Linked DNA regions of Homo sapiens: all the other regions are linked to region 3. Evidence: fine-mapped expression QTL. A gene starts in region 3. Each other region holds a variant in brackets. All regions are shown on one strand. Distances are between the middles of the regions.

Evidence for each region. PIP is the estimated chance that this variant, and not a neighbour inherited with it, causes the effect. A credible set is the group of variants that fine-mapping cannot tell apart.
Region 1: its variant is the best candidate, but not a certain one, in a credible set for the expression of STRN4 in whole blood (Lepik 2017, PIP 0.70).
Region 2: its variant is the best candidate, but not a certain one, in a credible set for the expression of STRN4 in caudate (GTEx, PIP 0.72).

The regions. Positions count from the first base shown.
Region 1 is chr19:46,540,743-46,544,936 of GRCh38, forward strand. It overlaps the pseudogene PPP5D1P. Among named protein-coding and RNA genes, the nearest start is that of PNMA8B, 47 kb to the left of the region's middle. The variant T/A (reference allele first, on the strand shown) is at 1,965.
Region 2 is chr19:46,771,916-46,776,108 of GRCh38, forward strand. It overlaps SLC1A5 (solute carrier family 1 member 5), which reads right to left. Exons shown (of 8, transcript NM_005628.3): 8 at 2,968-3,832. The coding sequence ends at 3,595. Among named protein-coding and RNA genes, the nearest start is that of SLC1A5, 15 kb to the right of the region's middle. The variant A/G (reference allele first, on the strand shown) is at 2,644.
Region 3 is chr19:46,744,658-46,748,845 of GRCh38, forward strand. It overlaps STRN4 (striatin 4), which reads right to left and starts at 1,793. Exons shown (of 18, transcript NM_013403.3): 1 at 1,492-1,793. The coding sequence starts at 1,773. It overlaps FKRP (fukutin related protein), which reads left to right and starts at 1,400. Exons shown (of 4, transcript NM_024301.5): 1 at 1,400-1,433; 2 at 3,370-3,431; 3 at 3,858-4,008. RefSeq lists silencers at 1,339-1,568, 1,779-1,828, 1,839-1,988, 2,029-2,128, 2,169-2,218.

The DNA.
Region 1 (4,194 bases), 200 kb before region 3:
CGCCCACCACCACGCCTGGCTAATTTTTGTATTTTTAGTAGAGACGGGGTTTTGCCATGGTGGCCAGCCTGGTCTCGAACTCCTGGGCTCAGGTGATCCACCTGCCTCAGCCTCCCAAAGTGCTGGGATTACAGGCGTGAGCCACTGCGCCCGGCCTAAATTTCCTCTTCTTATGAGGACATCTGCCATGTTGGGTTGGTGCCCACTCTAAAGACCTCATTTTAACTTAATTGCCTCTCTAAACGCCCTTTCTCCAAGTATAGTTATATTCTGAAGTACTGGAGGTTAGGACTTCAACACAGGAATTTGGAGGGAACACAATTAAATTTGTCACAATGGGAAACTCGGGACTGGAGGGACTGTGGGCACAGGTGTTTCCCAGGCAGGCAAGGGAAGGTTCTAATTAGGTTACAAGATGGTAAGGTCCATATGAGCAGAAACCTATGTTCGAATTGTTCACTTCTATGTTCCTGAATTATACTGGCACTGAGGAGATGCTCAGTAAATGTAAACTGAATGAATGAAAAAATGAGGCCGGGCGCGGTGGCTCACGCCTGTAATCCCAGCACTTTGGGAGGCTGAGGCGGGCGGATCATCTGAGGTCAGGAGTTTGAGACCAGCCTGGCCAACATGGTGAAACCCCGTCTCCACTAAAAATATGAAATTTAGCCGGACGTGGTGGCAGGAGCCTGTAATCCCAGCTACTCGGGAGGCTGAGGCAGGAGAATCGCTTGACTCCGGGAGGCAGAGGTTGCAGGGAGCTGAGATCTCACCATTGCACTCCAGCCTGGGTGACAAGAGTGAGACTCAGTCTCCAAAAAACAAACAAACAAAAAAAAACAAATAAAAACAAAGAATGGACATTGGATCTATATATATCATGTTTATTTCCTGGGTGAATTGTAAGCAAAAAGCTTGCCTATAAGACAGAATGTTAAGCCCAGTGGTCTTGTGTGGATTCTTTCTGGAATGTAACTCTTCATCTTGAGACTGTGGTTCCTATAAAGTTTGTTTCAAGTGTTTATTATATTTAATTATTGCATTTTTTTGAGACAGGGTCTCACTCCATTGCCCAGGCTGGAGTGCAGTGGTGCAAACATAGCTCACTGCAGCCTTGGCCTCCTGGGCTTAAGTGGTCCTCCCATCTCAGATTCCCAGTGTTGGGATTACAGGCATGAGCCACCACGCTTAGCAAAGTCAGTGCTTTCAAACATAAAAAAAAAAAAGCCCGTTCTCTCTTGCAGCTGTATAGGAAGGGGTTCTATTCTGCATCATGAAATTGCTCTAAATAATTAGTTTTTTCACTTTAGGAGGCCGAGGAGGGCGGATCACTTGAAGTCAGGAGTTTGAGACCAGCCTGGCCAACATGGTGAAACTCCATCCCTACTAAAAATACAAAAAAATTAGCCGGGCGTGGTGGCAGGCACCTATCATCCCTGCTACTCGGGAGGCTGAGGCAGGAAAATCGCTTGAACCTGGGAGGCGAAGTTTGCATTGAACCGAGATCACGCCACTGCACTCCAGCCTGGGTGACAGAGCAAGACTCTGTCTACAAAAAAAAAAAAAAAAAAAAAAAAAATCAATTTTAATAGAGTGGCACATTGAGAACATACCCTAAACATTCATTCTGTTCTCCCGTGCAGCCAGGAGCTCCAGTTAATTTTCCTGTTACCAGCCTCATTTGTTAACTCTGTTCATTTGTGTCTTTCCTTGAAAGGATAATTTGAACAAAAGAGTCTAAGATTTTTTTAGAAATTGTTGCAATATCTGAAAAAAAAAAAAAAGAACCTCCCAAAGAAACCTGCATTCTGATTGGTTGTCTTCCTTGATTATTTGTTGCTATGGTGACCAGGAGGTTAAATAGCATCTCTGTATTTCCTAAAGAATAAATACTGGTTGGTTTTCTCTGGCAAATCAGAAAAGGATCATTTCTCTCCTTCCATGATCATGATGCAATAAAAGCC[T/A]AGGGCTCTTCTAGATTTATATTTTATCAAAGAAAGTGAGAGTCTTGTCTTATCCAAATTAACAGAAGCACTTAGTCCAGTGTCCAGTCGCTTGAGTGGCGGTGGCCACTCTCGGAAGGGCAATTACAAACTGTACTAATAGTAAGTCCAGCGCGCCATCTGGTGGCCAATTAGAGAATAGCATGACCGTATCTACTTAAACTAAAAGGCGACTCACCTCCCTTCTTGTCTGTTAAGGCTGCCCTAGCAAATTAATACAATAAGCTTGTTCCTGTTGGTCTTAGTCTGATTGAGAAAGAACCCTTGACTGCTTTGACCCATAGAATATGACAGATGTGACACTGTGCTGGGCATGGCGGCTCACGCCTGTAATTCCAACACCGAGAAGCAGAGGTGGGCGGATCGCTTGATCCCAAGACTGCAAGACCAACCTGGGCAACACAGAAAGACCCCAACTCTACTAAAAATAACTTTTTTGTTTTGTTGTGAGACGGAGTTTCGCTCTTGTCGCCCAGGCTGGAGTGCAATGGCGTGATCTCGGCTCACCACAGACTCCGCCTCCTGGGTTCAAGCGATTCTCCTGCCTCAGCCTCCCGAGTAGCTGGAATGACAGGGGTCCGCCACCGCACGTGGCTAATTTTGTATTTTTAGTAGAGACAGGGTATATCCATGTTGGTCAGGCTGGTCTTGAACTCCCGACTTCCACCCACCTCCGCCTCCCAAACTGTTGGGATTACAGGCGTGAGCCACCACTCCCGGCCAAAAATATAACTTTTAAAAATAGGCTGGCGTGGTGGCCCGCACCTGTAGTCCCAGCTACTCGGGAGGCTGAGGCAAGAGGATCCCTTGAGCCTAGGAGGTAGAGGCTGCGGTGAGCTATGATGGCGCCGCTGCACTCCAGCCTGGGTGACAGAACGAGACCCTGTCTAAACAAACAAACAAACAAACAAACAAGTGACACCGCCAGGCCTGGATCTACATTTTAAGGGAACCAGCAGATTCCGTCGTGATCTCTTTGGCTCCCAGGCTACTGTGTAAGAATTGCAACTCCCCAGCCGGGCGCGGTGGCTCACGCCTGTAATCCCAGCACTTTGGGAGGCCAAGGCGGCGGATCACGAGGTCAGGAGATCGTGACCATCCTGGCTAACACGGTGAAACCCCGTCTCTACTAAAAATACAAAAATTAGCCGGGCGTGGTGGCAGGCGCCTGCAGTCCCAGCTACTCGGGAGACTGAGGCAAGAGAATGGTGTGAACCCAGGAGGTGGAGCTTTCAGTGAGCCCAGATCGCGGCCACTGCACTCCAGCCTAGGCGACAGAGCGAAACTCCGTCTCAAATAAATAAATAAATAAATAATAAAAAAAGAATTGCAGCTCCCCTAAGAGCATGGAGCTGTGAGAAGGCCCAGGAGAATTGAAGCTTCCAGACATGGGAGTGAAGAAGCCATCTTGGAGGTGGGTCCTCCAGCCCTCATCACATGATGCCACGTGGAACAGAAATGAACATCCAGTCAAACCCTTTTCACATTCCTGACCCACAAAATCCTGAACAAGCTTGGGAATTAAGCTATTACTGTGCCATTTTTTGTTGTTGTTGTTTTTGTTTTTTCTTTTTGTTTTGTTTTGGGTTTTTTTTTTTTTTTTTTTTTTTGGTTTTCTGGGTTTTATTTGAGATAGAGTTCTGCTCTTGTTGCCCAGGCTGGAGTGCAATGGCACTATCTCGGCTCACTGCAACCTCCGCCTCCTGGGTTCAAGTGATTCTCCTGCCTCAGCCTCCTGAATAGCTGAGATTACAGGTGCCCACCACCACGCCCGGCTAATTTTTGTATTTTTAGTAGAGACAGTGTTTCGCCACGTTGGCCAGGCTGGTCTCAAACTCCTGACCTCAAGTGATCCGCCCACCTCGGCCTCCCAAAATGCTGGGATTACAGGCGTGAGCCACCGCCTGCGGCCATTGTGCCACTTTTATAGAGGAGGAGATTGAGGTTCAGAGGCCCAGTTGATGGTCCAAGATCACACACTGGGAAGTACTGGAACCAGGGTTATGAAATCCTGTCTGCTTGGCTGCAAAGCCTCTACTCTTCCACACTGCATTATTTAGGAAGACAGACAGGCTTTGGGCACGAGCGTGGGCCTCACTGAGGGGAGAGGGGCCTTCTGGCCTCAGTAATATCCCTGTTCCCTTCTCTGACTGTCACTTCCCCCTTAGAGACAGAGTTTCTGCAGAGTGGA
Region 2 (4,193 bases), 27 kb after region 3:
GTCACTGCAACCTCTGCCTCCCGGGTTCAAGCGATTCTCCTGCCTCAGCCTCCCAAGTAGCTAGGATTACAGGTGCCCACCACCACACCCAGCTAATTTTTGTATTTTTAGTAGAGATGAGGTTTCCCCATATGGGTCAGGCTGGTCTCGAACCCCTGACCTCAGGTGACCTACCCGCCTCAGTCTCCCAAAGTGCTCGGATTATAGGTGTGAGCCACCGCGCCCGGCCAGCATAGTCCATATTCTGAACTTACACAGGATGTAAAACAGTTGCAGAGTGGGTTTTTATCCAAATAGCTATTTTGGGGTTTCAAGGAAATAAAATAATTCTTGGGACAATTTGGATAGTGAGAGTTGGGATATGAAGGGATGCTGCATTCCTAAGTAGGTGGTCACAAAGGAAAATAAATTGTTACCATGCGTTGTGCAGATTTTTGTTGTTGTTGCTCTTGAGAGAGTCTTGCTCTGTTGCCCAGGTTCGAGTGCAGTGGCGCAATCTTGGCTCACTGCAACCTCCACTTCTTGGGTTCAAGCGATTCTCCTTGTGCAGATTTTTTTAAGAGATAGGGTCTCAATCTGTTGCTCAGGCTGGAGTGCAGTCACATAATCATAGCTCACTGCAGCCTTGAACCCTTGAGCTCAAGTGATTCTCTCGCCGCCTCAGCCTCTTGAGTAGTGGAAACTCCAGATACGTACCAACCACCACACCCAGATTGTAGAAAAAATTTAACTGGAAGGCACACAGGGCAAAATGCATGTGATTTGTGTACAGGTTCGTTAACTTTCCCAAATGCATCCATCTGTGGAATCATCACCCAAATCAAGGTAAGATATTTGCTTTATCATAGAAGGTTCTTTTGTGCTCCCTTCTGATCAATATGCTATTTTTTTTTTCTTTTGAGATGGAGTCTTGCTCTGTCACCCAGGCTGGAGTGCAGTGGCACAATCTCGGCTCACTGCAAGCTCCGCCCCCTGGGTTCACCACATTCTCCTGCCTCAGCCTCCAGAGTAGCTAGGATTACAGGCGCCCGCCACCATGCCCTGCTAATTTTTTGTATTTTTAGTAGAGATGGGGTTTCACCATATTAGCCAGGATGGTCTCGATCTCCTGACCTCATGATCCGCCCACCTCGGCCTCCCAAAGTGCTAGGATTACAGGCATGAAGCCACCGTGCCTGGCCCCATATTCATTCTCAAAGGTCACCACTGTTCTGATTTCCCACCATAGGCCAGTTGAGCATGTTCTAGCCCTCCTCTAAATGGAACTATACAGTATTTACCGTCTCTGGCTTCTTTATCTCAACAAATTATCTGAAATGCATTTCTGTTGCAGTGTAGGTCGATATCGCTCTTATTTATTGCTGAGTAATCTTCCATTGTATGAATGTACCAGTGTATCCAATTGATTTGTTCCCAAATTTTGGCAATGATGAGTACAGCAGCTAAACGTTTGTGGACACATTTTTGTAAAAGCAAAAGTTTTCACTTCTCTTGGGTAAATACCCAGGAGTGCAACTCCTAAGCTGCATAGTAAATAAATATATATTATATATATATATATTTTTTTTTTTTTTTGAGACAGAGTTTTGCTTTTGTCACCCAGACTGGAGTGCAATGGTGAGATCTTGGCTCACTGCAACATTCTGCCTCCTGGGTTCAAGCGATTCTCCTGCCTCAGCCTCCCAAGTAGCTGGGACTACAGGCATGTGCCACCACGCCCGGCTAATTTTTGTATTTTTAGTGGAGACGGGGTTTCACCATGTTGGCCAGGCTGGTCTCGAACTCCTGACCTCAGGTGATCCATCCACCTCGGCCTCCCAAAGTGTTGGGATTACAGGCGTGAGCCACTGCACCCAGCCTGTATTTTTTAACTTTATTAAGAAACTGCCCAGTTATTTTCCAAAACAACTCAGCCATCTACTAAGGGAGCACCAACCAAGAGATGAGGAGTCCTGTTGTATCCCATCCTCCCTTGGTCTTGTATTCAGCCATTCTACTGTGTATAGTGGTGTCTCATTGTGGTTTCCCGTGGTGTTTAAGAGACAGGGTCTGGCTGGGCGTGGTGGCTCACGCCTGTAATACCAGCACTTTGGGAGGCCAAGGTGGGTGGATCACTTGAGGCACCGGTCTCTACTAAAAATACAAAAATTAGCTGGGCATGGTGGCAGATACCTGTAGTCCCAGCTACTTCGGAGGCTGAGGCAGGAGAATCGCTTGAACCTGGGAGGCGGAGGTTGCAGTGAGCCAAGATCGTGCCACTGCACTGCACTCCAGCCCAGACAACAGAGCCAGACTCCGTTTCAAAAAAAAAAAAAAAAAAAAGCGACAGGGTCTCACTCTGTTGCCCAGGCTGGAGTGCAGTGGCATGATCATGGGTCACTGCATCCTTAAACTCCTGGGCTCAAGGAATCCTCCCCACCGCAGACTTCTGAGTAGCTGGGACTGCAGGTGTGCACCACTGCACCTGCCTAATTTTTTGTGTTGTTTTTGAGACAGAGTTTTGCTCTTTCACCCGGGCTAGAGTGCAGTGGTGCGATCTCGGCTCACTGCAACCTCTGCCTCCCGGGTTCAAGCAATTCTCCTACCTCAGCCTCCTGAGTAGCTGGGACTACAGGCGCCCACCACCATGTCTGGCTAATTTTT[A/G]TATTTTTAGTAGAGACAGGGTTTCACCATGTTGGCCAGGCTGATCTTGAACTCCTGACCTCGTGATTCGCCCGCCTCGGCCTCCCAAAGTGCTGGGATTACAGGTGTGAGCCACCGTGCTCGGCCTTAATTTTTGTATTTTTTTGTAGAGACGATGTCTCACTATGTTGCCCAGGCTTGTCTTGAACTCCTGGCCTGGAGTGATCTCAAAGTGCTGGGATTACAGGTGTGAGCCCCCATGCCCAGCCCAGTGGTGTTTCTTGATGAGCAGATACTGTCATTGCAGTGGCCAGTGCTTTAAGTCAAATTCTCAAGAACACCTGATTAAATAGTTGACACTCAATTTTATTGCTAAAAAAAATGTCCTCTGGAGTGACAGCAGGTATTTGTCCTCAGCCTCTCCCCAGAGTCCCTGGGAGTGTTTCTGTTATTGTGGAGGGAATAGGGGATCTGGGGACAGGGTGGGACGTACCATGGGGACAGGAGGTCACAGAACACACACACACACACACACACACACACACACACACACGTGCACACACACATCCCCCCACAACTACAGCCGCCAAAATAACCAGCATGGTGTTGTAACATCCCCCCAGTGGGGGCTAGAATTCCCCATGGTGACCTGTGACCTGCTCCCTGAGACAGGGGAGGCCAGGCAGGTCACGGTGGGGACGCAGCAGAACATTATTTCTCCATCTTGCTGTTTTCTAGCCTTGAGTTGGGGACATGAGTGAGAACTGGGGGTTTTGAGGAGTAACCCTTGTGAACACATGTACTCCAGCAGCCAGGCATCCCAGATCTCCTGTCCTGGAGGGTGCTGGGGCCCCTGGCTCCCCAGAGTGTGCAGGCAGACCCCCAGAGCCCTAGCTCATCCATTTATCCATTCCTCATAATCCAGTGTCCAAAGAGCACCCCCAGCAGGGCAGGGAAGGTCCCTCCCGGGGTTTACATGACTGATTCCTTCTCAGAGGCGACCGTGGCATCCCCTGCGGGCCCCCGATAGTGTTTGAGGAGGGGGTTTCCTTCCTCAGTGGGGACTGGCAGCGGATCCAGGGGCAGCTCACTCTTCACTTGTATCAACTCAGGCTCTGTGCTTCTCGACTCCGTACGGTCCACGTAATTTTGGAGGAGTCCTGCCCCCAGAGCGTCACCTTCTACATTGAGGACGGTACAGGACCGGTCGCTAAAGGGGTAGAAATGACAGCAAAGTAAGCGGGAGGGGAGAGGGTGAGAGGGAAGGAAAGGGCCAAGGCCTAAGCCTCCTGCCTCTCTCCCCCTGGAATCTAAAAAGTAAAAATTAAGAGTTGGAGTCAGCCTGGGCAACATAGTGAGATCCCATCTTTATATATATTTAAAAAAAAAAAAAATTAGCCAGGCATGGTAGTGCACACCTATAGTCCCAGCTACTCAGGAGGCTGGGGCAGGAGGATCGCTGGAGCCTGGGAGGTGGAGGCTGCAGTGATCACAACCATGATCACATCACTACACTCCAGCCTGGGTGACAGAGCCAGACTGTGTCTCGAAAAAAAATTATAATTCACCTA
Region 3 (4,188 bases):
TACAGGCGTGAGCCACCGCACCCCATCCCTACCGACACAATTCTCATCAGCTATTTATTTGGGTACCAGCTTCCTACTAGATAGCAAACGGCAAATCGGAAGGGGAAAGGTGGGCTGCTACAAGCAGGTAATGACAATTTCTGCTAATAATAACCCAGTCCAAGAATCTTCAGACTTCCAGCGGGCCATTCCTGATCCCTTCAAATCCGGACATCTCCATGGTCCTCCAGTCACTGCCAATGGACCTGACGCTCCACGAGGTCACAAACCCTAGCCCAACTCCTCAGACTCTTCCATTCAACATCCCTGTCCCAAGCTACCCCAAAAACCACGGGGTCTTTTCCCAAGACTTCCACAAACATATCCCCTTCCCCCCAACCCCAGTCTACCCCCGTTCCGAGATGCCTCCTCATGTTGCCTTCGGGCTCTACAAAATTCTCCCCCCTAAAGCATCACCCCAGGGTAACCCCTAACTCGTCCTCATTGGCACCATCCCAGGACCCTCACCTCCATACTGGACATGCCCAACACCCCACACTCCAGTTCAGGGCTCTCTACCTACATCCTACAACACACGTGCCATCTCAGTGCCATCGCGCCCACTCCTGCACACCCCCAAAGTGGAACTTCCACTCTTAAGCTCTCCCATCCAGGCTCCTAGGGTACATTCCCTGCTCTGTCCACACTTCCACTCCAAAGAACCCTTCCCTGCACTGTGCAGCCACACATGCCCGGGATCCCCAAAGTTTCTCCTCAGAGGGGAAGGCACACACCTTCATCCTGGACCCCTTGAAACCCTCCTCCCACCCCTCGGGTCCTTACACAGCCCTCCTTCCGTGCCCACCGTCCAGTCGCCCCGAAACACACCGATCCCAGGTTCCCGACTTCCTCTCCCTAAATCCTCCCGGTTCCCCATCTGGACCCGCTCTTTCCCAGCGGGTCCCAAGTTCCCCCCTTGGACGCTCCCACCTCCAACCTGCACCTGGCTAGGGCCATGGTCGGGGTCGGGGTCGGGAGTCCCTCGGCGCCCGGCAAGCTTCTGCTTACTCCCACAGGAGACCACTCAGGTCTCCCAGACCCCTCCAGCTCCTCTCCACACCCTTTCCCGAGTTCTCTTAGCCTCCCCTCCAGGGCTCGAGTCGCCTCTCTCAGGAGCCCCGCGGCCAGCGTGCTCAGTCCCAGTCCCAGTCCCACTCCCAGCTGGTTGTGGTCCCTCCGCCCCTTTCTCTCGGCCGGTCCCGGTGATCCCTCCCACCCCCGGTCCCTCCACTCCCACCTCGGGCCGTCCCGGTCCCGTCCCACCCCGGAGTGCCCTCAGGACACCCCTCGGACGGCCCCTCACTCGCCCTCCGGGACCGTCGCGGTCCCCTCCCGCCCCCCCGCCGGCCGTCCCGGCGGCCATTGCTCCAAGATGGCGGCGGCGGCGGCAGCGGGTGAGGCCGGGCCGGGCCGGGCCGGGTTGGGGGTCGGGGGTCCCGGGACAGCGCTCACCTGTAACTCGGCGCGCTCGGCCTCCCAGCGGGCTTTCTCGGCTTCGAAGCGCGCCCACTCGTGCTGGATAAAGTGCAGGATCCCCGGCAGGCTCAGGGGCTCCGGGCCCGCCGTGGGCCCGGGGCTGCCTCCGCCGCCGCCTCCCTTACCTGCCGGGCCCGGCCCGGGGGCAGGGGCGGAGACCGGGGCCGCCCCAGTGGGGCCAGGGCCCGCGCCTGAGCCGAGCGGACGGCAGGAGGAGGCGGCGGCGGCGACCGCGGCGGCCGCTCGCTCCTCCATCATGGAGGCCCCGGGGCCGGCCTGCGCGCCCGCTGTGCCTCGCGCGCCTGCGCGGCCGCGCCAACACCCCCCCCCCTCCCCCGCCGCAACCACCGCGCGCGCGCCCGGCGGGGGACAGTAGGAAGGGGGGCCGGCGGCGAGCGCGAGCCTCGCCCACCCGGGTCTACACCGAAGGGTAGCGTGCCCGCGCGGGGGCCGGCGGGTGGGAGATCGCGCCCCGAGGAGGGCGAGGGAGACCCAGGCCCCGCGCGACGGTCCCCCTCGCTGGAGTGAGACTGAGGAAGGGGCCGCTTTCTGCCCCCCTCCTCCCACTTCGCCCCAGAGAAAGAGCCTTACCCCTTCCACACCCAAACACCACTCTCCTGGACAATTACTTTTACTCTGAGAGAAAGGGCGACCAGCAGTGGCCCCATCCTCTCTGATTGCCGGCCAGGTTGGTTGTCATGGTAACCCTTCCCCAGCGGTGGGGGCGAGGTGGTGGGGAGCAGCCTTCCCCTCGCTTCCACCTTTGTGGTTATGGAGCCCCAAACCTCTTAGGACTCTGCACCAGGAGAAGGTTGCTAAGGTAACCTAAGTGTCCGTGGTGGTCCTTCTGCTCCTATCCTCATTGATTACTATGGCAACCTCCCCCCCACCTAGCATTCAGGTAGAAAGGACCCCAGCCCCAAGGACACTGATCTCTAAGAGAAGCACCTCTTCCCCAGCCCCTCCCCCATAGCCACCTAGTTGGCATTACCATGGTAACCGTCTTCCCCTTCCCATCGTGGGAGGCCCATGCACCAAACTAACCAGGTGTTTTTATTTAGAGGAGATGCTCTGCTGAGGGGCAGTTGCTATGGTTACAGGGCCTGGACCTTCCTCCGGAAGGTGAGAAACAGGCAAGTTCAAGGCCTGGTTACTATGATAATAGAGCAGCCCCCTTCGAGTGACCCTAGGAACCAAGCCCAACAAAGGAGGGGATTTTTTTTTTTTTTTTTTTTTTTGAGACAGAGTGTAACTCTTGTTGCCCAGGCTGGGATGCAATGGCCCAATCTCGGCTCACCACAACCTCCGCCTCCCCGGTTCAAGCCGTTCTCCTGCCTCACCCTCCCAAGTAGCTGGGATTACAGGCATGCGCCACCACGCCCGGCTAATTTTTTTTTTATTTTTAGTAAAGACGGGGTTTCTCCATGTTGGTCACGCTGGTCTTGAACTCCCGACCTCAGGTGATCTGCCTCAGGCCCGCCTCGGCCTCCCAAAGTGCTGGGATTACAGGTGTGAGCCATCACGCCCGGCCAGGGGATGTTTTAAGAATGTCTCTCAGAGGTAGAGTGTGTCTATGGAAGGGGTTGTCATGGTAACAGCTTCTGTTGGCTTCTAGCCCTACCTTTTCTGGACACATTCATGCTAGAGGGATGGTTATAGGTTGCTATAATAACTGACATCCCTCCCATTCACCCCACCCCACTCCTGAGACACCCCAGGTGGTGCCCGAGATTATAGGACTTCAAGAGAAAGGATTCCCTGACCTTTCTCTTGCCACTTTTGTGGATAAGATGAAATTGTGCTCTATTGTACGGAAATGGCTGATTTGGGATTTTCTGGTTCTCCTCCTCTCAGGAGCGCAGCTCAGCTGGGCTGGAACTGCCCTCCTGGAACTCCCCCAGCCTACAACCTAGGAGGTAAGAAGTCCCTCAGTGTCACCTACACTCTCATGGAAACTGCCCTTCCTCATTCCTTAAGGCTTTCCCATGTCTCTCATTTTTTTCTTTTTCTTTCTTTCTTTTTTGAGACGGAGTGTCGCTCTGTTGCCCGGGCTGAAATGCAGTGGCGCGGTCATGGCTCACTGCAACCTCCACCTCCCTGGTTCAAGCGATTCTCCTGCCTCAGCCTCCCGAGTAGCTGGGATTACAGGCACCTGCCACCACGCCCGGCTAATTTTTTGTATTTTTAATAGAGATGGGGTTTCACCTTGTTGGCAGGCTGGTCTCGAACTTCTGACCTCGTGATCCGCCCGCCTCGGCCTCCCAGAATGCTAGAATTACAGGCGTGAGCCACCGCGCCCAGCCCTCTCATTTTTTTCTAACCGTCACATTCCCATTCCACAGGTGCAGGGACTGAGGCTCAGGCCAAATCGCAACTCAGACCCAGTGAACCCAAGGCCTGAAGAGAATTTGGATTCATTTACCTTGTTTTGTGGGGACTGGAGAGACAAGTAAACTCTCAGAGTAACTGTCCCCTCTGACTACCATTTCTAAGGCAAGCCCCCTGTTTCTACTCTTGCGCCCCCTGCTGGTTTCCTGCCCTGTCTGTAAGTTGCATGGCTTTTGTCCGTCTTTTTTTTGTTTGTTTGTTTGTTTTGAGACAGGGTCTCACCCAGGCTAGAGTGAAGTGGAGCAATCTCGGCTCACTGCAACCTCCGCCTCCTGAGTTCAAGTG